7 linked regions of the Homo sapiens genome follow. The protein of the gene in region 4 purifies or fractionates together with the protein of the main gene of each other region. This does not show direct contact. Each region holds a gene or a part of one and is shown on either strand. Other genes may lie near its edges.

Region 1 (3,500 bases), on a different chromosome or scaffold from region 4:
GTGAAAGCTCTGCTCTGACGGATACTGGCCATCAGGATTTCTCTCTCCCCTCCCGCAAGCGGCCCCCCTCTGGGGGTCTACTGTCCTAAGGCTTGGGGAGCGCTGACTCCCACGTCTTGGCTCCTCATCCCAGCACCCCCTGTGTCCTCAGGTGTGCAGACAAGTCCCAGCCTCCCCATGTGTCAGGTGAGATGACCCTCACCTGCCCAGGGCACTTCCTGATAGGTGGGGGGGAGCCACAAAGAGGTAATCTGGGCAAAGAGCAAGCTGCTGCCCTCATCCCTGCCACCACCAACACATCCAGCACCTGCCTCAGGTCTGGGCCTGGCCCTAGCTAAGCACCTCCTACAGCCCTGACCCTCCCCTCCCCACTGAACCCATCCTCCTCGCTGACCCCACCCTCCCCACTGAGCCCCCCTCCTCCCTAAGCCCCGCCTTCCTTTCCCCCACTGAGTCCCACCCAGCACTGTGAAGCAGGTGCTGACTCCCACATCACAGGTGAAGAGCTAAAGCTTAGGTGAGGGGCAGCGTGGGGGCTTCAAACCCATGCCTGGGTGACTCTAAAACCCAGACTTTTAGCCCTCTACCCTGCCTTGCAACTCCTTTGTTAAATCCAAGTCCTCAGCTCTGCCTCTGTATCCCCCACCAGGCCTGGCCATTCTCTTCCTGGGACAGTAAGGGTCAAAGCTCGGGCTTTGCTGGTGACTTTGGAGGCCAGGGCCCAGCTCCGTGGGGCTCCAGCTGTCTTGGCCTGCTCAAAGACAGGACACACTGGGCCTGTCCTCGCTGAGGGTGGAGGGTGGATAGGCACCTCCCTGTCCCCCACCCCCCAAGTGTGTGGCCTTGGGAACAGGCTGTGCTACCCTCCCGTGACTGCTGTCCCACTCCTGTCAGCTCTGCCTTCCAGCCTCTCACCTGCTCAGCCCCGATGGGGGGGTCTTCCCAGCCCTGCTCGGAGCCCCACAGGAACCGCAGGGCGGCCATGGCCTCCTGGCGCCTGTGCTGAGTCAGCAGGAAGCGCGGGGTCTCGGGCATGAAGCACATGAGAAGCAGCATGAGGGAGGGGGGCACGCAGCCCAGCACAGCCAGCCAGCGCCACTCCAGCACCCAGCCTGCGGGGGGTGGGTGGAGGAGGCTGGCGTCAGAGCCAGGGTGAGCCAGCCTGGGCCTTGCCAGCCTCAAAGACTCAGCTTCAGAGATGGGGCCTCGCTGCCTCTGCACATCTGCCCTCATGTTCGCTACTGACATTGCCATTATCACAACTGTTCATGAAGGCACATGGCACGGGCCAATCACACCAGCTGCGGAAGCGACAGTGGGTATGACAACGCGGACATTACTAGGCTGCATCCGTTCAACGAAACATTTATGTAGCCACAAAAATGAAGGATGAGGTGCTTGCTGCGTGTCCGCATGGTATGATGTGGCACCATTTGTAGAAGAGGTGGGGGAGGGAGGATAAATATGCATGTCCCTCATATGAACAGACTCTCTGAAGGCTACCAAGAAACAGGCAATGGGGACTCCCCCAGACAAGAAAGGGACAGAGGCGGAGGAAGCTTTTCACTGGACATCTCTCCACTCTGGCACTTGAGTGTTGAGTCATTTGAATGCATTATCTATTCAAAGTATACATGAAAGTAGAGAGGTGAGAGGATTTTGCTGTCTTGACGTATGAAGAACAGCATAAGTGCAGAATTACCTAGTTTTATATAAAGTTAAAAGGTTCTCTTACAAAGGGGCCCTGGAATAAATGAGTCTAGGGCATTGCTGCTCTAATTACTAATTTTTCCTAAGCCCAAGGCTTACCCATCCCTGGTTCCCAGTGGAAAAATACCTCTAAGGTAGCCATGATGTCCCTATTTTTCTTCTGTGCTGGGGGTGCAGACAATTGTTCTATGAAGTCTAGTCGTTGGAACATGATTGCCCCAATGTGAAGCAAACGTGCCACCACCATGTCACTTTGTGGAGTTATCAGAGTTCACCCACCCCAGTGGATCGAAACTCACAGAAATTGATCAGGAAAGGCAGGAGAAGCAACAAGCACATATTAAGATGAGCTGAAGATAGTGCCACGGGTGGGTGGACACCCAGTACCTGTCCCCGAAATGATGAATGTCAACACCTGCACACAGTGGGGGCTTTGGTTTACTCAGGTCTCCCAAGGTAGCCAGATCGCTGGCAGGATTCTGAATTTGTTAGGGTGGTTAAGTGGGTAAAAATGAAACACCAAAGACCTGTGTATCATCCGCCCTGACGATGCAGAGGGCTTGTGCCCTGGGCCAGGCCATAGCCCGTCAGGCCCCCGAGGCCTCCTACCCCGATGATCCCCATGGTTCTCAAGTCATCCCTTGACAATTCTCATTTGGAACCCACTGTTAGGCACTTTTCATGTGTCAATTAATTTAATGGACAGGTACTGGACTAGATGAGGTTATGCCCATTTCAAGACAGAGAAACTGAGGCTTTCAGAGGTGGTATGACTTGGCCAAGGTCACACAGCACGTAGGAGAGGCTATCCCCAAACTCAGGATGGTCAGATTTGAAGCCTGCCCTTGTTTTTTCTTTCTTTTTGAGACAGAGTCTCACTGTGTCGCCCACACTGGAGTGCAGTGGCGCGATCTCAGCTCACTGAAACCTCAGCCTTCTGGGTTCAAGCAATTCTTGTGCCTCAGCCCCCCAGGTAGCTGGGATTACAGGTGCCCACCACCACGCCTGGCTAATTTTTGTATTTTAAATAGAAATGGGTTTTCACCATGTTGGCCAGGCTGATCTCGAACTCCTGACCTCAAGTGATCCGCCCACCTCTGCCTCCCAAAGTGCTGGGATTACAGGTGTGAGCCACTGGGTCTGGCCTCTAAAGCCTGGCCTCTTTCTAATGAGAACACACCTGTCTCCTGAAGTTTCTTCATGCTGGCCCAGCTTTGCCCCTCGGGGTCCCCAGGACCCCGGCCTCCTTCACGTTGCAACTCGCCGACATGGTGAATCTGGCACTGACATTCTCAGGGGACTTGCTCAGCCCTTTACTCGCCCGGGCTGAAGATTTTTACAGGGACCCACCCACCTCTGGAGCCCTCTGGTTTGTCACTGCACAGTAAGGTACTGACCTAAGCAGTCAGCCCTTCCCACACCCCTAGAGGGGGCTTCAGGAAAGCTGAGGGTATCACCTTCTCCAGCTGTCCCTGGAACTCAGTCATAAGACACACCTATCGGCCGGGCGCGGTGGCTCACACCTGTAATCCCAGCACTTTGGGAAGCTGAGGTTTGGCGGTTCATGAGGTCAGGAGATCAAGACCATCCTGGCTAACACGGTGAAACCCCCTTTCTACCAAAAATACAAACAATTAGCCAGGTGTGGTGGCACATGCCTGTAGTCCCAGCTACTTGGGAAGCTGAGACAGGAGAATCGCTTGAACCCAGGAGGCAGAGGTTGCAGAGAGCCACCACTGCACTCCAGCCTGGGCGACAGAGCGGGACTCTGTCTCAAAAAAAAAAAAAAA
Region 2 (4,519 bases), on a different chromosome or scaffold from region 4:
TTATTTTGTCTTATATTTCTAAGATAGTTCATATTGACTGGAAAAAAATGAATCTGTTTAATGATCATTAAAATACTACTTGTTGCTACTTATTTATAAACTTTATTCAGCTTTAGCTAAAATACCTCGGGAATTGCACTAAAAGTCCTCTGAAATGTCTTAGTTTTTCTTAGTTCTGTGAATATTTCCAGACGTCTTTTTTAAAGCAACTTTATTTTATTAACCTTTCTTTACAAATGCATTTCTTCTTTCAGGCCTTCAGTGGTGGCTATTATAGAGGTGGGTTTGAACCCAAAATGACAAAACGGGAAGCAGCATTAATACTAGGTGTAAGGTAAAATAATCTCTAATATTTTTAGCATTTTTCTACCACTGTAGAGCCATGAGGAAATATAAGAAAGACCTTCTCTCCTTTAATAGGAGAGGGTCATGGGGGATTTTGTCCTAGGAAGATTGATATTACCAATTCTAATCAATGAAACTGTACTGTTCCTTCATGTTATTTTTAAGATGTAAACAATCCTTCAAATGAGAAGGCACACTAGCACTTAAGCACTTTTTCTTTTTTCCTAGAGTGTTTACTAAAACACAGGCACTTTTTCATTTATTTAAAGATAGACTCCTCAGCAGATTATCACAGTGTTCAGTGTTGTTCTCTGTAACTGACATTTTTTTTGTGGTGAAATTCTGCCTTCAACCGGGCGCGGTGACTCACGTCTGTAATCCCAGCACTTTGGGAGGCCAAGGCCAGTGGATTACTTGAGGTCAGGAGTTCAAGACCAGCCTGGCAAACATGGTGAAACCCCGTCTCTACTTAAAATACAAAAATTAGCCAGGCGTAATGGCACACACCTGTAATCCCAGCTACTCGGAAGGCTGAGGCAGGAGAATCGCTTGAACCCGGGAGGCCGAGGTTGCAGTGAACCAAGATCAAGCCACTGCACTCCAGCCTAGGGGACAGAGTGAGACTATCTCAAAAAAAAAAAAAAACAAAACTCTTCCTTCTTCATTTTCAAATCCTTAAACATGCGTTTCTTATCAATAAAAGGACTGTTGTAATGGGTACTGCAAGTTCAACACATTTTTGAGAGTGCCTTACTTTTCTAAGTAGTTTCCCAATTTAGGATACGCATTGGGTGTGTTGAGGTTTCTAAACAGCTTTTCATACTGTTGTGTTAATTTACTACAGTTTCACAGTGTCTTTAATTGGCCTTTATGTACAGTTTTTTGATGTGATGCAGAAGTAGGATGAAGTAAATACCATTTCTTTTTTTAATTAGCCCTACTGCCAATAAAGGGAAAATAAGAGATGCTCATCGACGAATTATGCTTTTAAATCATCCTGACAAAGGTAAGTAGTCATTAAATTCTCGTTGATGTTGTTGGTGTGACCAATAGTTATTAATGGGATAATTTTATCTCAAATTCCTGGCTATTAGAAAGGTAACACTTAAATCTGTAAGTCCTGTCTCCTAGGCTGGAGCCATATATTTTTGGTGTCTTAAAAGAAATTAAGTGAAAACTTTACTTACAGAATGAGCAGATGTAAGTGCTACTATTACTATGTTTTGTGGGTTTTTCTGGCCTACATTTATTATAATTAAAACGTTAAATTTCGTAAAACTAAAATGTAATTTTTCCTTATCCATTTTAGATACCTTGAAACGGAGATTACCTAGATAGAAACTTATGGGATTTATTTATTCGTTTGTGATAGACTTCTATGCAGCCTTGGCTGTGTTGAAGGAAAGCAAGAATTTCTTTGAATACCAAAAAATAGACCACAGAATTCATGTTCTAGTGTTTGTATCCTTTTACTTATACAGGAGAGGGCTTTCATTAATAAAAAGGGTTTTGACATTTTAAACAGGGTTATAATTGTTTGATATCTACTTCACAGTATCTTTTATGAAATTTAGCTTGTTTTATATGGAGGGCTTCTGACTCAGTAGGTCGGCAGTGGAGCCCCATAAATATGCATTTATACTAAATTTCCTGTTATTTCTTGCTGGTCTTAGGACCATACTTTGAGAATCACTCCTCCAGCAGATTCGTAGGAAAGCAGCTGTAGATGACATTGTGAAGGGACAGTAGATAACAGGAAAAGAAAAACTGGACAGAAAAAGGATGTAAAGCAAACTGGGATCTTTCCAGTAAACAGCTCAGAAGCCTCTGAGAATATCATGGTATTAAAATAACATGGTATAATTGATGTTCATTTATGACCTGTAATCATGAATAGGCTAACACCAGTTCAAAGGCATATACATATATATCTAATATATATGATAGAAATCCTATTTCTATCAGTTTAAGCTTTCTAAAAAGGTGTTATTTTTGTAGAAATATCTCCCACGTAAATTACTTCATTTCTCATTGGTCACATATATTACCATATATTTGGTCATCCAGTTGCAGTGTCAGGGTTATTTTTTAAAAATTAAAACACTGTTTCTGCTAAATCTCCCTCAGATAAGCATTGGAGTCCTTGAAACAAGAGTAGCTTTTTACCAAGCAGAAATTGAGAATCCATATTGTAACTGTTCTTTTTTCTTTCTTCCTATAGGAGGATCTCCTTATATAGCAGCCAAAATCAATGAAGCTAAAGATTTACTAGAAGGTCAAGCTAAAAAATGAAGTAAATGTATGATGAATTTTAAGTTCGTATTAGTTTATGTATATGAGTACTAAGTTTTTATAATAAAATGCCTCAGAGCTACAATTTTAAAAAATGATTTAGCACAAGCTAAATCTCAAAGCCTTGGTATAATTTTCTTGTTTAAATTTGGGGATTTTAAATCAGATTATAGTTTAGAATATTTGCGTATTAATTATGGGCAAGCACACACCTTCTGAATAGAAATATTGTTCATTACTCATTTAGCAGATAATTTGGGACCTATGTCTACTTTTCAAGGCAAAGTGAAGATGACAGTCCTTGCTCTCAGGGAGCCCCCACTTTAATGGGAGACTGATAAACTGGTAATTAGACTGTGATAAATAGTATGATGGAAATTAGCTTAAGCTGTTTAAGTAGGGACTCTTCTTATTCGGTGGAAAGGCTGTTCCAGGTACAGGCAACTGGCCTGGCAACTTGGATACTTGGAACCTTGTATTTAAAAGTGAATTTAACCACAACTGAGACCTAAGAAATTGACCTAGGGGTGTGTGTGTGTGTGTATTCTATGTACATATAAACCATTTTTATTTCATGCATTAAAAATAGTATGATAAAGATTTCAGAGTACAGGTCTGGTACAATCACAGTTCATTGCAGCCTCAACCTCCTGGGTTTAAGCAGTCCTCCCGCCTCAGCCTCCCAAAGTACTGGGATTACAGGCATGAGTATTTACATTGTATTCAGCTAGCCCCTTAAAGGTAATGACCATTTATAAATTATTCCTTCAGTTGGCTATTTCTTGACATAATCAAACTTCTGCAATTGTTATGATTAAGCTTAAACCCTGTTAGCAAAACTGAAAACTGAAATGTTCTCAATATCAACATATTTAATTTGGACTCTTTAGAATTTATACACTAATAAATTTAAATGATGTTTAAAGGCAAATTACTTACTGTTTGTCTAACATAAAATATATAAGGATCTTAAGAGGACCTGTATAAAACATCTGGTATAAACTAGTATGTATTTCTCAACAGGAGTATTTCTTATGTGTAGCTCTAAGATGATAAATTATACTACCTACCGTCTAAACTTCCTTAAGTCATCATAAGTTTCTTAATTATTGGAGGATACAAGGACTTTTGAGGTTAAAAAAATAGTGGAGGTAATATTTATCTGCCTTATAAAGTAAAGGTATATCTGCTCTTTGTGTTTTCTATCCAATACCCTCGTTTAAAATCTGATGGAGTCTGTTATGATTTAGTGTATGATGAAACACTAGCTTCTAAGGCTTTTATGCAGGATAAATTATTTCCAGGGACAAGGAGACATGAAAGTACAGCTGGTTCTTGTTTGTGGTAATTCTGTTCTTTAAGGTGGCTATGAACACTGAATTAGCAAATAAGGAACAAGTTCCTAAGAGAAATACAGATTCTGTGACCCTTTGGTCACAATATTGTCTGCCAGTCAGTATATAACCTTGATCGACCTGTTTCTGCTTGAAAACATTCTTTAGTATTTCATTAACTTTCAATTAACAGCCAACAGCACTATAACTAACTCATGCTTGGGACATCACGGCCTTCTTTGCATTTGGGAACACTAGGTAGCATGCTTCACTACTACTCTTAGGAACCATCTTAAAACAGCAAAATCACCAACAAAAAGCACAAACATGAAACTTGGCACTAAATAGACCACAAAAAGGATATCTGTTTATGGTGTGAGAGCTTAAACAAGGTAGAGCATTGCCTTGTGCACATAAAGTGGTTTAAATTTTTTGTCACTCTGCAAATACTCACAAATGACCAGAAAAGGATGTTGATTTTGGAGTTACAAATTTTAGTGAGTAGGCAAATTCACAGATAAGGAATTCTACTAATAATGAGGATCAAC
Region 3 (4,491 bases), about 40 Mb from region 4:
CGCCTCAGCCTCTCAAAGTGCTGGGATTACAGGCGTGAGCCACCGCGCCTGGCCCCTAACTAGTTTAATTTCTCCCTGTTTCTCTCCCTGATAAAGAGTGGGAGGGGAGCAAGGAGATTGAAGGGAGATGTTTTCCAAAGGGCAGGATTTGTGGTTTTTTATTATTTATACCCACAGTATTAGTTAAATGTCTATCTGTGCTTGCCTCAATGTGCCTCCAGTGCTGATAGAGAACAGGTTAAACAGGTCCGGTGTTCACATCTAAAATGACCTGGAGAGGACTGGGCACGGTGGCTCATGCCTGTAATCCCAGCACTTTGGGAGGCCAAGGTGGGAGGATCACCTGAGGTCGGAAGTTCAAGACCAGCCTGACCAACATGGAGAAACTCCATCTCTACTAAAAAATACAAAATTAGCTGGGCATGGTGTTGCATGCCTGTAATCCCAGCTACTCGGGAGGCTGAGGCAGGAGAATCACTTGAACCCAGGAGGCAGAGGTTGCAGTGAGCCGAGGTCGCACCATTGCACTCCAACCTAGGCAACAAGAGCAAAACTCTGTCTCAAAAAAATAAAAATAAATAAATAAAACCACTTGGATGGGAATAGACATAAAACTTTAGGTAGGTGAATGTACAGGAAGTATTGTTATGTAAATTAATAATCAGCATTTTCATATTTCATAGAAATAGCAGGCAAGAGAGTACCTCTGGGTTTAGGTAGTTTCTGGGGAAAAAAAATGAACTGAGGAAAAGTTGCTGTCTCAATGCTAGCTGTCAAGAGATGCTTACTGGGTCCAGGCACCGTGGCTCATGCCTGTAATCCCAGTCCTTTGGCAGGCTGAGGAGGGCGGATTGCTTGGGCCCCCAGGAGTTAAGACCAGCCTAGGCAACAAAGCAAGACCCTGTCTCAGTTTAATTAAAAGAAATTTGATATCTTTATTAATTTTTTTTAAAGAGAAGCTTACTGGAAGAACTTGTGGGGAGTGCTTTTTGTGCCCCTAATCTGAAGTTATTTATCAAAACCAGTCTCTGATTCCAGCCCCCACCACCTACATTTCCCCTCCCAGCTTACAGGAAACCCCTCCCAAGGCCTTTATACTGTGGTTTGGGATTGTGTAAGGTTCAGTAGAGCCCTTTGAGGTGGAAGACTTCCCCTTCCTCACCAGCATTTCACCTTTAGGGGCATGAAACTGACTCTCTGTGCCTCCTCCATTCTTCACCCCAAGTACTATGTGACTTAATCTTTTTATCCTTGGGTGAGGCAGAGAGAAGGTATCCCTAAACATACAAGCACTGTGTATTCTTAGTATGTTGTGTGAAGGGGCAGGGTGTGGGGTAGGGCAGAGGAATTATCTCTGTCATGGCTATGAGGGGGTTACTGATGTGATGCCTATTAGAGTAAGCTAAAGATCATCATATTAATAACCATTAGCGTAGATTTAACATTTCTTTCTCCACCTCTTATCCTTCTTTCTCCTTTGTGCTCTCCCTTTCTCTCTGTCTTTCCTCCCTTCCCTGTCATGATCTGTTTCAGGGAAGCTGACTCCACCCATGTGTTCAATCCCACCAGTCTTCCCTCCCAAGTCTGGAAGCCCCACGACCTCTTGGTCTCATCTGGTCACAGCAAGTTAGAGGTGGAAAGAGCTCAGCACGGGGCCCTTCTGTTTACACATATACTGCCCATAGCCAGGAGTTACTGCACAAACACTAGCCAGCCTTCTACACTACATTCCTTTTCCAAGACTTTTCTGGGTTAGTTTGCTTTCCAGCCCACTGATTTCCTTCTTATTGGACAGGTCACTCTTTTGCATCCCAAGCCTGGCTTAGGCAAGTCCCTGAGGTTAGTAAACACCTTCAGTGCCCCTCAGCCAAGTCCCTTTTGACCATGGAATACCATCAGCCTGAGGATCCAGCCCCTGGTAAGGCCGGGACTGCAGAAGCAGTCATCCCTGAAAACCATGAGGTTCTGGCAGGCCCAGATGAGCACCCTCAGGACACAGATGCAAGAGATGCTGATGGGGAGGCTAGAGAACGGGAGCCAGCAGACCAAGCTTTGCTGCCTAGCCAGTGTGGGGACAACCTTGAGTCCCCTCTGCCTGAAGCTAGCTCAGCTCCACCGGGGCCAACCCTTGGGACACTGCCTGAAGTAGAGACAATAAGGGCATGCTCCATGCCCCAGGAGCTTCCTCAGTCCCCCAGGACCCGACAGCCTGAGCCAGATTTCTACTGTGTCAAGTGGATCCCTTGGAAAGGAGAACAGACACCCATCATCACCCAGAGCACTAACGGCCCTTGCCCTCTCCTTGCCATCATGAACATCCTCTTTCTTCAGTGGAAGGTAAGAGAACATGCAGTTAGGGGTGCAAAAAATATCAGGGAGTACTCTTCCCTGACTTACTTCCTTGATCATCCTGATGTCCTCAAACTAGTCAAAACTTTTCAGATTGTTCTCCCTATTTCTCCAGCTTGAGCAAATGAGATAAGATGTTCCTAAAAACAAAGAAAAAAAAAAAAGAGGAAGATCTGTCCTACCCCTGTATCTCCTACTCCCTAGCAAATGCACATGCCTTGCAAGATTTCACATTCATTCCCTTGTGCCAGTTGCAAGCCTTTTTTCCTACCCCACCCTACTACTGGAGCTCCCCCTTGCCTTTCCATGGGTTCTTCCTTCAGTGCTCTTTGGAGGAAAGCACACACGTGATCACCCCTTCTGCCTCCAGGTGAAGCTCCCCCCGCAGAAGGAAGTGATCACATCGGATGAGCTCATGGCCCATCTTGGTGAGTGACTGGGCGTTGAAGAGGAATTACCCAAGGGGCTCCAGAGCTATCCACTCAGCCAGAAATCCAGACTATTCAGGGATCTCCATTTGGGGGTTCTGATACAGCAGGGAGGGTAAGGGTCTATGGGGCTTCTCTGCAAGGCTGGAGAATGAAAAGCAAAGGCGTCGGGAGTCCTGGGTTGTAACACCAATTCTGCCCTTAGCTTTTGTATCTGACCCTGGGTGGGCCGTTCACCTTTATGAGGCTGTCGCCTCCTCTGAGAAATGAAGAGTCTGGATTAGACTCTAAGTATTTTCCAGCTCTGAAAATCTGTGTTCTGTGACATTACCCGCATTCTCCAGGAGAAGAGGAAACTTAGCTTTTGGGATGATTGGTGGGGTAAGCTGATAAGGGGCCCTGTCTTGTAGGAAACTGCCTCCTGTCCATCAAGCCCCAGGAGAAGTCAGAGGGACTTCAGCTTAATTTTCAGCAGGTGAGGCAAAAGGTCTGCAGGCATAGGGGTTTGCAGGTTTGTAAGGGGACATCTTGTAATACTAAGATAAGCTTTTGTTGCTTCTTCAGAGGTTTCCTTGAACCATGATTTCATTCTGCAGGAGTCAGAGGAGAGTTTATCTTTGTCCTAGAAAATATGTTCATTGGCCGGGTGCTCACACCTGTAATCCCAGCACTTTGAGATGCCAAAGCGGGAGGATCACTTGAGGCCAGGAGTTCGAGGCCAGCCTGGGCAACATAATAATACCCCTGTCTCTAAAAAAAACCATTTTTTTTTTCAAGAATTAGCCAGGTATGGCGGTGCGTGCCTGTAGTCCCAGCTACTCAGGAGGCTGAGGTGGGAGGGTCACTTGAAACCAAGAGTTTGAGGCTGCAGTGAGCTAGGATCACACCACTGCACTCCAGCCTGGATGAAAGAATTAGACTTAGACTCTCAAAGAAAAACAATGTTCATTTATATAAGATAGAGAAGGGTTGAGGCAAGGGAGAAATGGAGTGGCTTGTAAGAGAATCAGGGAAGAAGAGCAGCAAGGTTAATTTTTAATTTCTGCAGGTGGGAGTGGAGTGGTGGGAGAGAAGGCTAGAATCTCCATCATTTTTTTTTCTACCCCCAGAATGTGGATGATGCAATGACAGTGCTGCCTAAACTGGCCACAGGTCTGGATGTCAATGTGCGATTCACAGGCGTCTCTGATTTTGAGTATACACCCGAGTGCAGTGTCTTTGACCTGCTAGGCATACCTCTGTACCATGGCTGGCTTGTTGATCCACAGGTGAGGGTGGGAGGGCCCACTGGGACCTTATCCAGCTCAAGCTGACATGAGAGAGGCAAATTTTTGTCGGGTAGAGGTTAGGGAGTTAGGGGTTAGATTGGCTTGGGAGGGAAATAGTGTTTAGAGACTGGACCCAGTACAGAATTCCTTGAATTTTAATCTATTTTGGGGGTAACATGCAAATACAAGCAAACTACATGCAAATAGGTCAGTTCTTTAGACATCAAAAATTCAGGAAGCAGATGGGTTTGGTGGCACATGCCTGTATTCCCAGCTACTTGGGAGGAGTTCGAGGCCAGTCTGGGCAACATAGCAACCCTATGATGAATGGTTCCTGAAATTTTTTTCTTTTTTGAGAGACCAAAAAAAAAAAGTGTTTAGGAACCATTCATCACAGGGTTGTAGTCCTTGTGAGCTTTGTTCATTTCCTTCCTTAAAAAAGAAAA
Region 4 (3,963 bases):
AAAACTTTGGTGAATGTGAAATGATTTATATATGGTCTTATCCAAGCAGGATCAAACAAATTCCATCCTCTGACCCTCTTCCTATGACTGATAGGATCAGTTCAAGATGGCACAGGTTGTCATGTTATTAGGGTGTTATGAGCTCCAGTTAAATGGGTGCAAAGGGAAGGAAAGACAAAGTATGTGACTTATGAGGTTAGTTCCCTCATAACAAGTGAAGAAGATAATCTGAAATAGGCTGATTGAACTAACCGAACTTCTGGGTAGACTCCCACTATAGCTCCGTCTTAGAAAGTCTATGTGATTACTGCTTCTATATAAAGGGTTAAACATGATAAAATTGATGATGGTCCCTATCTTTGTCTATGGAAAAAAATATCCAGTGAGTTTTGGGGGAACTCATGACCCAAGTCATAATAGGAATTTCAGGCTTCATAAAGACATCATGGTTGAAGCAGAGGTGTTCTGTTTCCAGCAAAGCCCAACAGGAAGCTAACTTTTGCTTTTTGAAAGGAGGATTCCCCACCAGACTGGGAAGCAACAGCCTAGGCTCCAGAGTCGGACACTGGACTTAAGTTGTTATCAGATGAATTTGCTCAGCTGCGTACTGTTGTGTTACAAAATCAAATGGCATTAGATACGCTTACCTCAGCCCAAGGAGGGTTTTGCACCTTACTGCATACTGAATGTTCTGTGTATAGCCCTAACAATTCTCACAATATTACTCACAAAGCCATGTTGGGTGTGGTTTTTATTAATTGTGCTTTTAATTCTGCTGTACTTAACCTGTATCTGTAAACTATATCAAATATCCCTTCCCCATGTATCTGTAAGGGTATTTTCCTGCAATTGAGTATCAGATTGAGGCCAAATGTGGAGGAAAAGTTAAATATTAAATTTGAACTCAACTGAACATGGACACAAACAATGGTCACCAAGTCCCGGAACAGGTTGTGTGAGCCCCTTGAGGCGTTCATCCAGCACTGTTTTGGAAAAATCTCTATTTCAATCTAGTCCTATATGTTAGTTATTGAAAAAAATAGACAGTCTCAAAAAACAAGCTGACCTTTTTATGTTCCTTGAACCTAGTTGTGAAGGGCCCTTGTTACTGGGCCTCATGCCAAACAACTCGTTACAAAAACAGCTAGAGTCCCAGACGGTGCCAAAGCTTCATGAAACCTCCTCGTCTGTGCACGAACAGGTGGCCGACTCTGGAGCCCAGGCTGTTGCTTTCCAGTCTGGTGGTGAATCCTCCATAGTCTGGTGAGTGTAAATATATATATATCTTTTCCCTTCTCCCTTTCCCATTGCAATTTGATTGTTATATCAATTTGCTTATTATATCAAGTTGTTTATTATATCGTTTGCTTATTACATCTGCATTGCCATTTATGTGAGATAAAGGTTGTTTACCCTTAAAGGTATTGTGTGTGTGTCTTTTCTCCTCCCCTCACACATCTCTCACACAGATCATTTTATACCCAAAGGGATATAAATCATTCTACTATAAAGACACATGCACACGTATGGTTATTGCAGCACTATTTACAATAGCAAAGACATGGAACCAACTCAAATGCCCATCAATGATAGACTGGATAAAGAAAATGTGGTACATATACATCACGGAATACTATGCAGCCATAAACAGGAATGAGATCATGTCTTTGCAGGGACATGGATGAAGCTGGAAGCTATCATCCTCAGCAAACTAACACAGAAACAGAAAACTAAACACTGGATGTTCTCACTCATAAGATGGAGTTGGAACAATGAGAACACATGGACACCGGGAAGGGAACAAGAAACACTGGAGCCAGCTGAGGGGTTGGGGGCAAGGGGGGGAGAGCATTAGGACAAATACCTAATGCATGTGGGGATTAAAACCTAGATGACGGGTTGATAGGTGCAGCAAACCATCATGGCACACGTATACCTATGTAACAAACCTACACATTCTGCACTTGTATCCTGGAACTTAAAGTAAAATTTTTTTTAAAAAGGGGGGAAAAATATATAGCAAAATGCAACTGGAATTTCCAAATGAATTAGTATTTTATTTAAACATCTATATTTTAAAAATAATTGTAATAATGAGAATACATAGACACAGGGAGGGGAGCAACACACACTGGGGCCTGTCGGGGGGGGGTGGGGGTAGGGAAAGCATCAGGATAAAGAGCTAAAGCATGTGGGGCTTCATACCTAGGTGATGGGTTGATAGGTGCAGCAAGCCACCATGGCACATGTTTACCTATGTAAGAAACCTGCACGTCCTGCACATGTATCACGGAACTTAAAATAAAATAGAATTAAATTAAATCTTAAAAATAGTAATTGTAATAAATTTATATTTGAAACATGTAAGGTATTTAATTCACACACAATGTTTTGTGTGCAAACTCCCCTTTCCCCTATAATTACTCCTCAGCTATCCAAGGACTTGAGGTCTTCAGATTGGGAAAAATAACATTAACTAAAATTTATTAAATAACTAACATGTGCTAGGCCCAGTGCTAGGTAGGTTATCTCATTTAATTCTCACAACAACCCTATAAGACAACAACTAGTATTATCCATATGTAATACATGAGGAAATTGAGGTTCACAGGTGAAATAACTTGTCTAATGTCACATATCTAGAAAGAAGGAGAACAAAAATTGAAATATAAGTTAGCGATTCTAGAGACCATGCTGATATTCTGTTCTGTCATATGGCAACCTTTGTGCTGGACAGATGTGGGAGAATGCTCTCTGCAATTGACTGGCATTGGTTATTCTAACAGTCTTACCCTCTTTGTATGTGAATAAACTGGCATTCTCACTTACATTGACTGCATGGGCCAGTCTCCGTTATCTTTTTTTCCATGTTTTAAAAATGTTTTTCTTGTGGTAAAATAGACCAAAACAAATTACCAACTTAAATATTTTAAGTGTACAGTTCGGTGGTACTAAATACATTCATAATGTTCTTGAGCCATCTCTCCTTTCCATCTCCATAATTCTTTTCATCATGTAAAACTCCAGCTCTATACTCATTAACCTGTAAGTCCCCATTTCCCCCTCCCCCAGCTCCAGGAAACCACTATTCTACTTTCTGTCTCCATGATTTTGACTATTCTAAGTATCTCACATAAACAGAAAAATCATATATTATCTGTCTTTTTGGACTGGCTTTTTTCATTGAGTATAATGTCTCAAGATTCATCCATGTTGTAGCAAGTCAGAATTTCCTTTTAAAGGCTGAATAATACTTTATTGTATGTATATATAACAGTTTTGTTATCCATTCATTCACTGAAGGACACTTGAGTTGCTTGCATGTTTTAGCTATGGTGAGTAATGTTACTGTGAACATGGAAGTACAAATATTTCTTTGACACCAAGCTTTAAGTTATTTTGGGTATACCTAGAAGCGGAATTGCTGGATCATATGGTAATTCTATGTATGATTTTTTTAGGAACTTCCATACTGTTTTCCATAGCAGCTGTACCGTTTTACATTCCCACCAACAGGGCACAACTGCTCCAATTTTTCCACATCCTTGTTAACACTTATTATTTTCTGTTTTTTGATAGTAGCCATCCTAGTGGATATGAGGTGATGTCTCATTGTAGATTTGATAGGCATTTCCTTAATGATTAATGGCATTAAGCATCTTTTTATGTGTTTATTGGCCATTTCAATATCTTCTTTGAAGAAATAGATATTCAAGTCCTTTGTCCATTTTGAATCAAGTTGTTTGGTTGTGTGTGTGTGTGTCATTGAATTTTAGAAGTTCTCTCTATATTCTGAATATCTCTTATCAGATAAACTCTTTGCAAATATTTTCTACCATTCCGTGAGTTGCACTTTTACTCTGTTTGCATTGTCTTTTGATATACAAACATTTAAAATATTCATGAAGTCCAATTTGTGCATTGTATTCTTTTGTTGTCTGTGATTTAGGTGTCATATCCAAC
Region 5 (4,491 bases), about 110 Mb from region 4:
ATTTTACAGATGAAATTGAGACCTAAAACAGAGCAGCAATTTGGGTTAACAGAAATAGAGCTCCACTGAGAATTAGGAGACCTGAATTTCTTGTCTTGACCTGCAAGCTGTGGGAAAGTCTTTAACTCCTCTATTGCTATTATTAAATACCAGTAACAACTTCTCGGCTTACTTCACAAAGCTCTTGTGATGATCAAATGAAATAATGTGAAACCGGTTTATAAACCTAGAGTATTAATGTTATTCCGTGGAAAATTACATAAACACAAATATCTTTGGAAAGGTAATTTAAACAAAGTTGTAGAAAAGATAAAATAACATTATGCTAAGTCCTTTCATGTTTTTTCATTGTCCTTATTTATATTAGTTTAGAATACTTTATTTCAAAAATTTAAAAGTTTAAATACTTAAAAGGTTTCCAAATATTTACAGAATTGTGTCTGAAAAATTATGCACAGATGTTTGTCTATTGTTTTTCATTAATAAGATTAGCTACTGTCTACAGTGATAAGCATTTTAATAATAAAAAAGTCAGGAAAGTGTTATTTCTTAATATTTTAATTATCATTATAATTTGGCAGTAAAAATCACTTTTCACAAAGACATTACACTTACATTAACAAATCACTCTTGATTCATTCATTTTTGTTTTTCCATTTCTCCTGGCAGCTTTGTAAGAATCCATAACTTCAATATGTCTAACTCAGTTTTGCTTAGCTCATGGTAAACATTTGGAAAACTATGAAACTTCGTGGTCACTCCTAGAGATTTTAACATTGAGTTTGTCTCTTCTGCCCAAGAATGAAGAACTAACTCATCTGCAGTACCATGACACTGAAATAATTCAGGAAGTACACCATTACTCTTCTGAAGAGCCTAGAGAAGAAGATACAAAGACAGAAAAGTTTAAGAAATTCCATTTAAGATCATTCTTAGAAATCAGAGAGAACAGGAAAATTCCAATTTTACCAAGGCTTCAATAACTAATGGGAAAAAAAAGGCAGAGGGAGTGCTGTCTGAGGTATACATTGGTGGGCCAGGCCTGGGGACTTAGCTGGTTCCTGGCATCACTCAATTTGTAACTGTGTGTCACTTACATTTATTCTATAGAGGACGTCTTAAAAATGGCCAAAGCATTTCCTAAAGAAACTAAGTGACTTGGGAAGACAGACCTCTTCACACAATGTGGAAGGAGGGAGGAGTACACAGCTAAGGCACAATCAAGGGGACAATTACATTTTAGTTCTCTATTCTGTATCTGCTTTAACATTTCCACTTCTGGTACTGAAGCTGTAACATTATAATTGAAGCTGCATCATATTCATAGATGAGGATATTGCTGCATAATAAGTATGTGCTATGTAATTGATTTTTGTTTTATGTTCATGATGCAATAAGCAAACCCAGCTATAACCATCATGCAGTTTTAATATGTATAAAATTTACATATATGCTCCCCCACAACCACACACATGATTATCCTTTCCTCCTTGACATTTTGCTTAACAATATTTCTTGTACAGGGGATTTCCAAAACATTAATGATCAGCTGGAATTTAATCACTACGACTCATTTGGCCATGAATTCCAGGAATGGTCAATCCATATCAACTGTGCATCAACTGTGTGTGTGTTTTACAGCTTTATTACCGATTTTGCTTTAGTTTTAACATGTATATATTTCATATTTTTTTCATTTTTTTTTAAATCTGGAACTTACCTGGTAAACAGCAGATGCTTTATTCAGAAAACTAGAAAGAGCAAATACTCCTGCCACATCTTGATGATTTCTATATGCTAAATGTATTGCCATGCATCCTCCCATAGAGAATCCTCCTAAAAACAAAAACATACTTAAAAGTAGAATACATAAAATAATAATTTAGGATATGATATATAACAATTTTCCATATTTTTAAAATATCTGGAGACCTTTAAAGAGAATGCTAAAAAGAAATTTCGTCTACTCTAAGTTTCACAGACAAAGGCCTGCGATAACATAAATAACCCTGTTCCCTCTATGTCACCACTGGTAAAGAGAGCTGTGCTCTACAAGGAGCCAGGATTAAACAAATATATCATGTTCACCAAGTAAAATATCTATCGTAATTCAAAATGAGTCATATTACAAGCATTACTTAAATTCTCAATATTTACTTATATTTTGTTTACACGTACAGAAACCCTCACACTGCAACGCAATTAATAATTTGCACCTTTTTGTCTTACTTGCTAAGCTGTGAGCTCCATAAGGAGTTATGTATCTGGTGTTTGCTATATAATAGATGCTTAGTGAATTCTGAATTAAGAATGATAAAAAAAATTTGAGGAGCTAGTTAACACATTTTTGGATTACAATATTATTTTGGAAACTAATTTATGGTGATATAATAAAAATGAAACATGTATGCCTATATGTAGTTTTTAAAACCAAAGTTTGAAAAAAAAATTAGTCAAACTGTTATTGTCTCTTTAATGTACCAATTCTATGCCAGTCACTGGATATATGCAGATTAAAATACACAGACCCTCCTGTTCAGGGGAACTTTGAGAAGGAAACACATCCAACACAGAATATGGAGATAGCTGTTATGAGGTGACGGCAGCAGAGAGAATGGTGATTCCAGGCCTGACGACAAGTCAGTGACTCAGTGTGACATTCCTAAGCTTGAGAGAAAGCTAAATGACATCTCATTATATTCCATGAGAAAATACAGAATGTAAATCATGTAGCCACACACTCATAGAAATACAAAAATATACTTTGAAGTAGAATTCAAATCTCCTAATTTCAAGTCTGCTGCTTTATTTCACTTAACAAAGTGTAAAGCTGAGCTCTTAAGAGACCATAAATTTGAATTTACTACAATAATCTTTTATACATGGAGGGAACTGAGGCCCAAGATTAGGTACATATTATTTTAAATATAAAACTATTAATAGTAATTTTGGAATTCGGATCTTTTGCAATAGAGTTTAATATACTTTCTACTATCCCTTGATATTTATTAAAATAGGACTACTTTATCTGGAATAGGCAGGTAATATTATTTTGGACTCAGAACACAAATACCCGAGAGAAGATTACCAGTCTGGCAAAGTTTAGATTTTTTAAAAAAGGCACACTATGTAAATAATGAATAAAAGTTATCTGTGATTTTCAACATACCAGCAAGAAATAATAAGTTCTTATCGTAGCAGTAGCCCACCATGGACAAGAGCCACCTGAAAGGCTCTTTCAAAATACCCCCAATAACTCCAGATGTAGATACATCTAATTAGAAGTTCATAAATGAGCTTGGTGGGGGAGAAAAAAGCATAAGCATCTTAACACTGTATGTAAAATTTGCAAATGTACATTAGATTCTCCAAAAGGTTAAAAGCCACTGGGCTACATTATCCATGAATTTGTGCATTAATAAATCTTTGACATGTCCCATTTAGATATGAACAGCTTACGTAAATACACAAATTAGTATTTCTGGTAAACATTTATTGTAAGTACACAGAAAAAAATCTCAACTTTATTGTTTTTTGCCACAATTCTAGTTACAGATTTCTCTCTGCTTATGAAGTTTTCTCTTTAATAACATCATGAGGGTTGTAAAGCGAAGACATTTTGAAATAAAATTCTTATCGATTTAATTTATTGAATATAAATTATTGAGATTTTGAAACCCTTAAGGGTAAGAAACAGTTTTTCTTCAATAATCATATTTTCATTGAGTGCTTATGATTAGCTGAACAAAGTGTCTCTGTGGTGCACGCATACTAATGAGTCAGTTTCAACTTTACACGCTCAGTGGTAAGTATAGTGCTTTGCACATAGCAGTAACTCAATAAAAATTTAACTGAATTTTTAGAAACCGTATGGGTTTCTAATGAAAGTAGTAAAAAATTTACAAATATCTCTTAAGCTTATCAAAGAGACAACATTAAGGAAACTAGTTCTAGTCCTGCCTGTGATACTCCCAAGCTGAATGTCTTTGTGTAAATTATTTAAAATGCTGGATTTCATTTATAGTAAAACAAGATAGATGGACTAATCTCTAGATTTTCCACCAACCTTTTAAATACAAATACTTAATCAGTTATAAAAACTAAAATTGCGAGAACTTTTAAAATGTACAGTTACTGTAAATACAGAAATCTACTTTCAGTTTAAGAATCCCTATCTCTCAGAACACAATTCTAGCTTTCCTAAAAGTTCACAGAATAGAGCTTACCAAACACTCACTTCCTTCATCTCTTCCAATTTCCCCTCTGTTCTTTACAGCCCATTTACTTACAAAGGAATTTCAGGTTGCTTAAAATCAAACACACTGTTAATAATAAAACTACATCTCTAAAATAGGAGAGAATGTGAGAGAGGAAGAGATGGGATTTGAGCAAAGAGTGAGACACAGAGAATAAAAAAAGAGACTTACAGACCATGATGTTAGGGTGGGGGCAGTAATTACGTGTGCAACTGGGCATTTAACAGTTTCTCTG
Region 6 (4,491 bases), on a different chromosome or scaffold from region 4:
GAGTGGGCCCACAGGGAAAAGAAGGCGGCTCTGAAGGAAGATCTCGCCCACACCCCAGGACAGAAAGAGGAAACAAGCCCGCCCTCTGGTGAAATGGGACTCCCTCCATCCACCAACACCCAACCTCCTGAAAGCTTCACAACTTCACGCAGAGTCCGGTGGGCAGGCACCAGGCAGGAAAGGCTCCTCAAGAGGTTCCTGGTGGTCTGGCCTAAGCCCCAGCCAGAGGCCCTGCTCTCTCTGGCCTGGGGCATCCACCCGTTGTTCTGAAGGCAGAGCCCATTCTGTGGGCTCACAAGACACAGTGAAGGGGATCATGGCCTGCACCCCTGCTTTTCAGCAGTAAAAAGCCCGAAAAGCCTGGCGAGCATGGCCGAGCTGGGAGGGCCGAGCCGGAACTCCACGTCCCTCGAGAGCAGGAGCCTCTTAAGGGCTGGCACTGGTCTCAGCCTAATGGCTGAGGCGGTACCCTGGCTTCATATGCATCTCACTGCTCCCACTGCAGGGGGGCAGGGAAGGGGGGTCTGGGAGCCCTTCATGTGTGGGGGCCGAGCTGGGGGCCCCCATGGCCATCCTGGACCTCGCTGCTCCAGAGTTTAATAAAGGTAGCACATGCTTATTGCTAGAGCCTTTGCAGACAATGGCGGTCCTCCGTGTGTTCAGCTCTCCTGGCGGCCTGGCCCTGTCCACCACAGGACGGCACACCCTCCGGAGTCCTGCCTCCCATGCCTGGCCTGAGGCATGGCCACAAGCCAGTGGCTCTGTGGGCCAGGGCCACCTGTCCTGCTGGGGTCCCAGATTCTCCTACTTAGAGCAGCTCCGTCTGCCCCCTATTTAGGCCGTTCACACCTCACCACCTTCCCTCTGCCTCAAAACCTGATGCTGAGGTCCATTTTCCAGATGAGGAAACTGAAGTACCAGGAGGCCCTGTCCAGCCCCTCCTCACCAGACACACCCAACTCCCACAGGGGCCCACGGTCCCCAACACTCACTCTGAGGCTGGGCCACGCACCAGGAGCTGCACCAGGATGCCCGTCACTGCCACCAGAATGGGATAGTGGTCCACGCTCTCTAGGCCTGAGGGGAAGGGGAGGAAAGAGATGAGCCACCCACATGCTCCTGCTTCAAGGGCTCCAGGCCTGCCCACTGCCCTCTCTACAGAAGGGTGAGCCGAGACTGCAGAGCACCAAGTCTGGCTGTCCGGGGGCAGAATGTGGAATCAGGCCTCACTGTTCCTAGCAGAGGAACCGAGGCCTGTAGTGTGTTGGGGTGCAGGGCATCTAGGTCCTCACCAGGCAGCCGTAGGGTGACCACACGATCAAACAGGTTCCTCTCAGCTGTCACCCGGTTCAGCACCTGGTTTAGCAGCTGTGAGGGGAGCAGGAGTCCATTGGTGGATGGGGAGCGTCATCAATGGGGCATCCCCAGGGTCCCACCCTTGTTGCCCAGATGGCCACACCTGTGCAAGACGCCGCAGCAGCATCTCAGAGGTAGGCCGGGTCCAGTCAAGGAATATCTCAGGCACCAGTGTGATAGTCATCTCCAAGACACGCAGCAGGCTGACCGAGAGGTCAAAGCAGGTGGCACATACCTTGAGCTGCCGGCTGTCCACAAAGTTCCGCTCCAGGCGCTCAGCAGCCTGCTGGATCTGAGCCACCAACACGTGGGCATGCAGTGGTCAGCACCTGGCTCTAGCCCAGGACCAGGCCTCATCCCTTGCACCACCCTAACCCACGAGGCCCCACCACAGCCCACCTCTTGGATCATGCCAATGAATTCAGAGAAGGCCCAGTTGAGCTGATTGAGGACGCTGTTGAGGAAGCTGGGTGCCACATCAGGACCCTGCTGTAGGAGGTCCGCCATGTGCTGCTGCAGCAGGGTGGAAGGGCAGGGCTCTGCAGGGGGACAGGAGGCGGCATCATCAGGGACTCCACTGCAGTGGCCTCTGCCTGTTTGCCTCTGTCCTCGCCCATTGAGGCTTTGGTATAAGGACAGAAAGATGGCTCCCTAGGAATGCTCAGGTCATGAAAGCAGGGGACAGAGGACAGCTGCCTTGGAGTTAGTTGGGACAGAATCTGTCCCCTCCTTCTACTAGGCAAGCCCCAGGCTGCAGCTGTGTCCAGCCCTGACACCACACCATCCACTCCAGGTCCAGAGCAGCCACACAGCCACAGCCTGACCCTCAGCAAGTTCTGGGTCGCACACCCTTCAGATAGGGTCAGACCTAAACAGGGCGGCTTAGATGCTTCCCCACCGGCACCAAGGCCAGCTCCTCCAAGAGCCTACTCTAAGCCCTGCTGCAAACCTGCTGTCCTCTACTGTCCTCTGCTGCCCTTGGCCTGGCCTTGGCATATGGCCGAGGTGGTGGGCACCAAGTCTGGGCTGGCAGGCAGCAGTAACCGGAGCCCTCAGCTGCAACGGGCCTGGCGCACCTCCCCACCAGCTTGATACAAATCAATAGTTCCCGCAGCAGCAGGACAGGCCTGGCCCCACTGCCGCTCTCCACTTGCAGCTCAGTTCCGCCCTGGACGCAGGACCACGGCAATTGGCAAGGACTTGCTGTGTGACTTAGCAGAAGACACTCAGCCTCTCTGGGGACACCCTTTGGACCAAAACACTGCCCACAAGGGCAGAAACAGACTACATGAGCCAAGAAGAGCCACCATGAAGGGTGAGGACAGTGTGTGGCACACCTGGCACTCTGCAAGGGCCAGGCCTAGGGGAAAGTCCTTGCTGGACCCTGGAGAGAGGGCACAGCCTCTGCTCCCAACTAAATGTCCCTTCCTCCAGGAACTCTCGTGAATACCCTCTGGGGACCTGGCCAACCTCCAATCTGTGCTCCCAGTGGACTCAGGTGTCCAAGGCCTAAGCCAAGGCCAGGGTCTGCCACCAGCAGATAGCAAAAAAGAAGCAGAAGGACATGGTGCTGGGACAAGGCTGGAGGTCAGGGAGCTAGCTTAAAGGGCAAGGGACAGAGTATTCAGTCTGCATGAGCTGTAGCAGGCCAGGAACATGGTGCCGCCTCTCACCATGACCCACATAGAGCATCCAGGCCCAAAGGGCACATGTAGGTAAGACTGTGGGCAAGGCTGGGGAGGGGGAGTCCCATCCCGAGTATCCTTGGGCTGGAAGGAAGCAGGGAAAGTGGAAACCCCAGGGGACACGTAGGGAGTCTGGGACCCAATGGGGGAACCAGAGAGGGGCTGGAAGAAGTGGAGAGTCTGAAAGAACCCATGGGTAGGAGGTAAGCGCCCCCGCCTGCCTTGCCCAGGACTCGCCCAACCCAGATACTCACTCTGGAGGCTGGGCAAATTGGCGTCCTCAAGTTTGGTTTTCAGCAGATGTGGCAGCCGTGTATAGCGGTACCCGAAGCCACAGCCCTGTGGAGGTGGGGGTCAGTGCCCAGGTCAATGGGACAGCGCACCCTCTCCCTCCAGCCAGCCTCAGCCACTTCCCCTCGAGTCAGGCTTACCCTCCAGAGCCGCACCAGGATCCAGTTGGTCTGGGCCCAGGGCCGCTGCTCATAGGGCGCCAGGAGGTTCCTCACCATGGCGATACGCCTGTGAGGGCAAGGAGGGGAGAGACGGGGTGAGGCTGGGCATGGTGCTTGTGGCCAGGGTGTGTGCCCCCCAGGCCCCACTCACTGCTCCTCGGGGATTCGCTCCACAGCCCGCAGGGAGTGTGGGTAGCACACGTAGCTGGCCAGGGCCTGCATCAGTGAGTCTCGGATGTCTGCGGGGACACACCGTGCCTCAGCAGGGGCTTGGCATGAGCCCTGGACCCATACTTCATGCCCACCTGGCCACATTTTTCATAGAAGAAAGCCGACCAGAGGTGCCATCCCATCCCCCTCCCCCTGTACCCTCTGTAGGGGCCCCTCACCAGTGCCCACAATGCGTGCGTCGGCAAAGTGTTTGGCGAGAATGGCAGCCAGGCGGGTCAGGGTCTCTTCATAGCCTGCAAGGGTGGGAAGTGAGACGTGTCGGCTGGGAGTGGGGGCTCCAGAGGCAGGCATGTCAGCAGGGTGGGTGGACTTGGGTAGCAGGCTCTAGAGCTGGCTCCCAAGGCCAGCCTGGACCCAGGGTGGCATCTGGGGACATCGGGCAAAGCATTCATTGGTGGCTGTGCAAGGGCTAAGGCACAGGCTCACTGTGAAGGGATGACAGGCCCTGGCAGGAGCCCTGACCTGGGCTCAAACCCATCTCAGCACACACACCTGATGAGCAGTCAAAGCTCCTTGGGCACTCACAGCTCTGTCTTTGAAGACAAAGCCTGCACTGAGGCCTGTGGCTGGGCAGGGGGCAGGCTAGGGGCCTGACAGCTCACTGCCTGATCCAGACATACACTGCCACGCCCAGCCTGGAATCAGCAGGCTGAGAGGCCCAGGTTCGGATGTGGACCCTAGCAGGGTCCACCCCCTGCTGTGATTTACCAAGACAAACCATTCTGCCCCTGACCAACTGCTACGCTTTGTGACCAGTGCCAGGGAGT
Region 7 (4,491 bases), on a different chromosome or scaffold from region 4:
CCCCCTTGTGGTCAAGGATTAAAGCCGGCAGGAGCCACTGTGCCTTCTCTACTCTCACCCCTGCCCCATCCTGGCACAGTGCTTCCTGGGCTCTGTGGTTCCTTCCAGGGCTCCTTTGCCTTTGCTGGGAGGCGGCCAGGTCAATCCTGCCAGGCCCTTCCCCACGACTGCCTCGACCTGTAAGGCGCAGACTCGCCTGCCAGCACCACTGTCTTCCTCTCGCTCCCTCTGCCCCTCCCTAGCTCAAAAACTCGAAGCCGGGTGTGGTGGCTCATGCCTGTGATCCCTGCACTTTAGGAGACCAAGGCAGGAGGACTGGTTGAGGCCAAGAGTTCGAGACCAGCCTGAGCAACAGAGTGAGACCCTGTCTTTACTAAAAATACAAAAAATTAGCCGGGCGTGGTGGTACATGCCTGTCACCCCAGCTACTTGGGAAGCTGAGGCATGAGCATCACTTGAACCCAGGAGGCGCAGAGGTTGCAGTGAGCCAAGATTGTGCCAAGATTGTGCCACTGCCTGGGTGACAGAGCAAGACTCTGTCTCAAAAAAAAAGAAAAAAAAAGTGACCTCTGGCGTGGATTTCTCCAAGGGCTTGTGTGCACATTCCAGCCTGTCCCCATCCTGGCCAGCAGGGTGACCCTGGGCAGGACACTGAGGCCCAGTCCCTCATCTGCCTGCAGAGAGGGCTGTGGGCACCAGTAGGGTGGTGTCTAAGAGCCTGGGGGGCAGCAGGGTCACGTATGAGGGTCTGGGGACAGTGGGGGCAGAGGCTATGGTTCCTGACGCTGTGGTTGGCACAGTGGGCTGGCCCTGGACATGGGACTCCATCCCTTCCTAAGGGGTCCTGGGGGTCCAGGACTGCTCCCAGCCTGGTCCAGAGAGAGAGAGAGAGGAGAATTCAGTCTCCCTGTGGACTCCCAGAGTTAGGGACAGGACCCCTGAGCAGCTGTCCTCCCCGACCCCAGCCTGTCCCGACCCTCGTCCCGGCCTCACCTGTGAAGAAGATGTAGTCGAACCTGTGCTCTAGCAGCTGCCCCGTCTCCTGGGGCCCGCCCAGCACCACAGCAAAGCAGCTCTGCAAGGCGGGATGGGTGAGGCTCCTTCTGGGACCCCAGCTCCGAGAACACAAGGGAGCAGCCCGCCCTGCCTGGACCCTGCCCTGCCTCCACCCCGCCTGGCCTGACCCAGCCAGGGCTCTAGGAGGGTTGGGTGGAGGCAAAGTGGGGAGAAGGGAGCTCCCCAAGGTTGGCTGGCATTGGCAGGCCCAGCTTGGAGTCCAGCTGGCGCTGGAGGGGCTGATGCCAGGGCCAGGTGGAGGCAGACACGGAACCCCTGGGCAACAGGCTGCCCTCGCTGCTCCTCAGAGGGAAACTGAGGCTGACAGGGGCGGTGACTTGGTCAAGTTTACACAACTCAGAAGAGGCAGGATTGAGGTGGGGACTCGGGTCTGACTGACAGGCCCTTCCATGCCAGGGGCTGCCCAGCCCTTGAGCCTTGCCTGTTCCCGCTCTACCTGCCCGGCAGCCCTGCTCACCTGGTCCACGTATTGGGGCAGCACCTCGGCCAGGATCTTCTCGACGTTCTTGCTAATCTCCGATGGCTTCAGCACCACACAGTTCCCTGCAGGGCAGTGCAGGGAGAGAGCTGGAGGAGGCGTAGCCAGCTCCTGGTCTCCACACACCTGCAGGGCAGGCATCAGCCTCACCCACTTTCAGATGCAGAACCTGGTTCAGAGAGGTAACATGACGGGCCCAGGGCCACACAGCCCGGGGACGGTGGACCAGACAGTCCTCTTTGCCACCTGGGCCAGTTCTCCCATGTCCTCCTGGGATCCATGGGTGGCCCTGAGGCCTCGAGCGGAGAAGGGTGACCGGAAGGGGCAGGCCCAGCTCTCACCTGCAGCGAGGGCTCCCACGAGGGGCACCAGCGTCAGGTTCAGCGGATAGTTCCAGGGCGCAATGATGAGGACCAGGCCAAAGGGCTCCTTCCGGATGAAGGCGGAGTCCAGCTGCGTGGCCTGGGCCGGGAGCCGGGGATGAAATTAAGTGCTCAGCACCCCGGCCCCTCAGCAGCCAGCTCCCACCCAGAGGGGCCACCCTGTGGGAGCAAATATCCCCTGAGCCCCCTGCCCGCCTCAGCCCGGCCGGCTCACCAGGTTCTTGGGCACACGCTCGTCCTTCATCCAGGCCCGGAGGTTCCTGAGGGCCAGGGTGACCTCGCCCTGGCTGATGGCAACCTCAGACACCTCCGACTCGAAGGCTGACTGCAGGAAGTGGGTGGGGTCAGGGTGGGCCAGGATTCCCAGAGTTGGCAGGAGGGCACAGCCTCCTCCAGGCAGGGCCTGCTTCCACAACTCATTCATTCATTTTCATTCATTCGTTCACTCACTCACTCCATGTTCAGTGCGTGCTTCCTGTGTGAGGTGCTGTCTCTGTGCCAAACAGAGGGACCGGCCCTGAGGCCGACCTTGCAGGGGGCAGTCGTTCCATGTGAAAGTGAGAACGCTGACGGCTCCATTAGGACGTGGCTGTGCTAGGGAAATCATGGAGCAGGGTGGGGGTGGAGACTGCTGGAGCGTGTGGCTGTGGGCGTGCACAGGTGTGCACATGTATACATCCACATGAGCATGTGTGTGTGTGCTGTTTTTACAAAGCGGTCAGTGCAGGTCTCCAGGCGGCGGTCACATTGGAGCAGTGACCTGAAGTCAAGGAACAAGCAAGTCGTGGGTACTGGGAGGCGGCATACTTTGGGCAGAGGCCCTGGCGGCTGCAAAGGCCCCGAGGTGGCTGTGCGCTTGCTCTGCTCCTGTTTAGCAAGAAGCAGAGTGGGCAAGGTGAGGGGGCCAGGCAGCCAGGCAAGGACTCCTGAGAAGAGCAGGGATGGGATCTGACTTAGGGTTTTGTTTTTTTTTAATTTCAAAAAAAGTTTGTTTTGATTTTTTGCAGAGTGCCTTGCTGTGTTGCCTAGGTAGGTCTTGAACTCCTGGCCTCAAACAATCCTCCCACCTCAGTCTCCCAAAGAGCAGGGTGGAGATTGGTCCACAGGAGACACAGGCACAGCCACCCCTAGGTAAATGCTGTCAGTTCCCACAGCCCAGGGGCCAGGGCCACTGTCAGGCTTCTAAGCAGGAGTGAGGAGACCCGAATCAATAGGGACATTGTCCTGCTCTCGGCTAGCCAGTGCTCCCTGCCCTCTGCGCCCCAAGGGAGGAGAGACCAGCCAGGCAGCAGGCTGCAGGCCGCTGGAGAACAGGTCAGGGACACTGGGGCCAGGCTGGCTCCCTGGCTGAGGCAGCGCCTGAGGTTATGGGGTGCAGGCTCTCCCGGGTCAGGGCAGAGGGGGACGGGCCAGTGGGGTGCTGGATGGGCCAGAGGACCAGCGAAGCCCAGAGAAGGAGATGCCCTGCCTGAGGTCACTCAGCGAACCAGGGGCAAGGCCAGGGCTACAGCTGAGCCCCAAGAGGGAGGAAGACGCCACGCCCACTGGCACCTCCTAGCCACTGAGGCTGGGGGAAGGTGCCTTCCACACGGACTTTCCCACAGCCTGTGCTCTGGCCCCATGAGCCTGGTGGCCTGCCCGCCACACCTCCTAGGTCACCTGGGACCTGACTTTGGGAGACTGGGCTATTTTGAGCCAGGTTCAAACTCTGGCTCTGCTCTTCCTGGCTGCATGCCCTTGGGCAAGAACACACTCTCTCTGAGCCTCTTCTGGGGGCCACTGGGTGTGGTTGCCCAACCAGATTCACCAAAGGGTTAACTGAGAGGGTGCACGTGACGCTGGGCAGATGCTGCCTGCTGAGGGTGGGGACAGGGGGGTGACCAGGTCCAGAGGGAGGGACCAGGTTGAATGTTCTGGGCTACTGCTGCCTTTGTAGGGCCCCGCTCCTGCAGCTGGGATGGGAAGGCAGGAGGTGGAATCAGAGCCGAAGGGAGAAAAGGGACCAGACAGACGTCAGGTCAAGTCTCATGAAGGCCGGCAGGCGGCCGGTGGCAGAAGCTCAGTGGTGGCGGGGGAGTCAGTCCCCAGGGAGCCCAATGGGCTGGGGGAAGGTCTGAACACTACAGCCTTCAAGGCAAAGGGAGGAGATATTTTGTCCAGAGAATAGGAGCCGGGGGCAGCCCCTGGGGCAGATGTGCTGAGGCAGGGGCAGGTGGTGTCCTGAGGCAGGGGCAGGTGTCCTGAGGCAGGGGCAGGCAGGTGCATGGGCCCTGATGGGTGAGGGGTTGGGGGAAGTGTGTTTCTTGGGGTTCTGCCTTGGCTGCCACTGGGATTGGGAGGGGCTGAGGCCCCAAGCCTTCAGGGTCTAGACAGAGGCCATGATGCCTGCTGTACCCAGAGAGAAGGCCAAGGCCTCACGGCCTCCGAGGCCCTACATAGTGTGGCCCATACCCCAGACCTCATCTTTGCTGTTTCTTCCTCTCCCACCCCCGACAGCTATGCTGGCCTCCTTGCTGCTCCTCAAGCAGAAACACCCAGCACCTCCTGCCTCAG

Evidence for each region.
Region 1: the proteins of CHIA (region 4) and SLC2A8 purify together in Homo sapiens (affinity purification with mass spectrometry; 3 studies listed by BioGRID and IntAct, with this or other methods). This does not show direct contact.
Region 2: the proteins of CHIA (region 4) and DNAJC19 purify together in Homo sapiens (co-immunoprecipitation; one large-scale study listed by IntAct). This does not show direct contact.
Region 3: the proteins of CHIA (region 4) and MINDY1 purify together in Homo sapiens (affinity purification with mass spectrometry; 3 studies listed by BioGRID and IntAct, with this or other methods). This does not show direct contact.
Region 5: the proteins of CHIA (region 4) and LYPLAL1 purify together in Homo sapiens (co-immunoprecipitation; one large-scale study listed by IntAct). This does not show direct contact.
Region 6: the proteins of CHIA (region 4) and RNF123 purify together in Homo sapiens (affinity purification with mass spectrometry; 2 studies listed by BioGRID and IntAct, with this or other methods). This does not show direct contact.
Region 7: the proteins of CHIA (region 4) and ALDH3B1 purify together in Homo sapiens (affinity purification with mass spectrometry; one large-scale study listed by BioGRID and IntAct). This does not show direct contact.

The regions. Positions count from the first base shown.
Region 1 is NC_000009.12:127,400,169-127,403,668, reverse strand, and holds part of SLC2A8 (solute carrier family 2, facilitated glucose transporter member 8), read right to left. Parts: intron 1,113-3,500; coding exon 916-1,112; intron 10-915; coding exon 1-9.
Region 2 is NC_000003.12:180,982,758-180,987,276, reverse strand, and holds the end of DNAJC19 (mitochondrial import inner membrane translocase subunit TIM14), read left to right. Parts: intron 1-254; coding exon 255-334; intron 335-1,280; coding exon 1,281-1,351; intron 1,352-2,566; coding exon 2,567-2,637; 3' UTR 2,638-3,568; downstream 3,569-4,519. UniProt on the Homo sapiens protein: Mitochondrial co-chaperone which forms a complex with prohibitins to regulate cardiolipin remodeling.
Region 3 is NC_000001.11:151,000,011-151,004,501, reverse strand, and holds part of MINDY1 (ubiquitin carboxyl-terminal hydrolase MINDY-1), read left to right. Parts: intron 1-1,533; exon of another isoform or gene 1,534-1,795; coding exon of another isoform or gene 1,796-1,884; coding exon 1,885-2,337; intron 2,338-2,672; exon of another isoform or gene 2,673-2,719; coding exon 2,720-2,777; intron 2,778-3,187; coding exon 3,188-3,252; intron 3,253-3,886; coding exon 3,887-4,045; intron 4,046-4,491. UniProt on the Homo sapiens protein: Hydrolase that can specifically remove 'Lys-48'-linked conjugated ubiquitin from proteins. Has exodeubiquitinase activity and has a preference for long polyubiquitin chains. May play a regulatory role at the level of protein turnover.
Region 4 is NC_000001.11:111,289,688-111,293,650, forward strand, and holds the start of CHIA (acidic mammalian chitinase isoform c precursor), read left to right. Parts: upstream 1-1,163; 5' UTR 1,164-1,263; intron 1,264-3,963.
Region 5 is NC_000001.11:219,207,877-219,212,367, reverse strand, and holds part of LYPLAL1 (lysophospholipase-like protein 1), read right to left. Parts: intron 1,854-4,491; coding exon of another isoform or gene 1,837-1,853; coding exon 1,721-1,836; intron 877-1,720; coding exon 640-876; 3' UTR 1-639.
Region 6 is NC_000003.12:49,712,979-49,717,469, reverse strand, and holds part of RNF123 (E3 ubiquitin-protein ligase RNF123), read right to left. Parts: intron 3,958-4,491; coding exon 3,883-3,957; intron 3,733-3,882; coding exon 3,645-3,732; intron 3,561-3,644; coding exon 3,473-3,560; intron 3,381-3,472; coding exon 3,296-3,380; intron 1,896-3,295; coding exon 1,756-1,895; intron 1,649-1,755; coding exon 1,460-1,648; intron 1,369-1,459; coding exon 1,293-1,368; intron 1,078-1,292; coding exon 993-1,077; intron 642-992; exon of another isoform or gene 1-641. UniProt on the Homo sapiens protein: Catalytic subunit of the KPC complex that acts as E3 ubiquitin-protein ligase. Promotes the ubiquitination and proteasome-mediated degradation of CDKN1B which is the cyclin-dependent kinase inhibitor at the G0-G1 transition of the cell cycle.
Region 7 is NC_000011.10:68,016,299-68,020,789, reverse strand, and holds part of ALDH3B1 (aldehyde dehydrogenase family 3 member B1), read right to left. Parts: intron 2,264-4,491; coding exon 2,153-2,263; intron 2,018-2,152; coding exon 1,897-2,017; intron 1,621-1,896; coding exon 1,535-1,620; intron 1,076-1,534; coding exon 994-1,075; intron 1-993. UniProt on the Homo sapiens protein: Oxidizes medium and long chain saturated and unsaturated fatty aldehydes generated in the plasma membrane into non-toxic fatty acids. May have a protective role against the cytotoxicity induced by lipid peroxidation.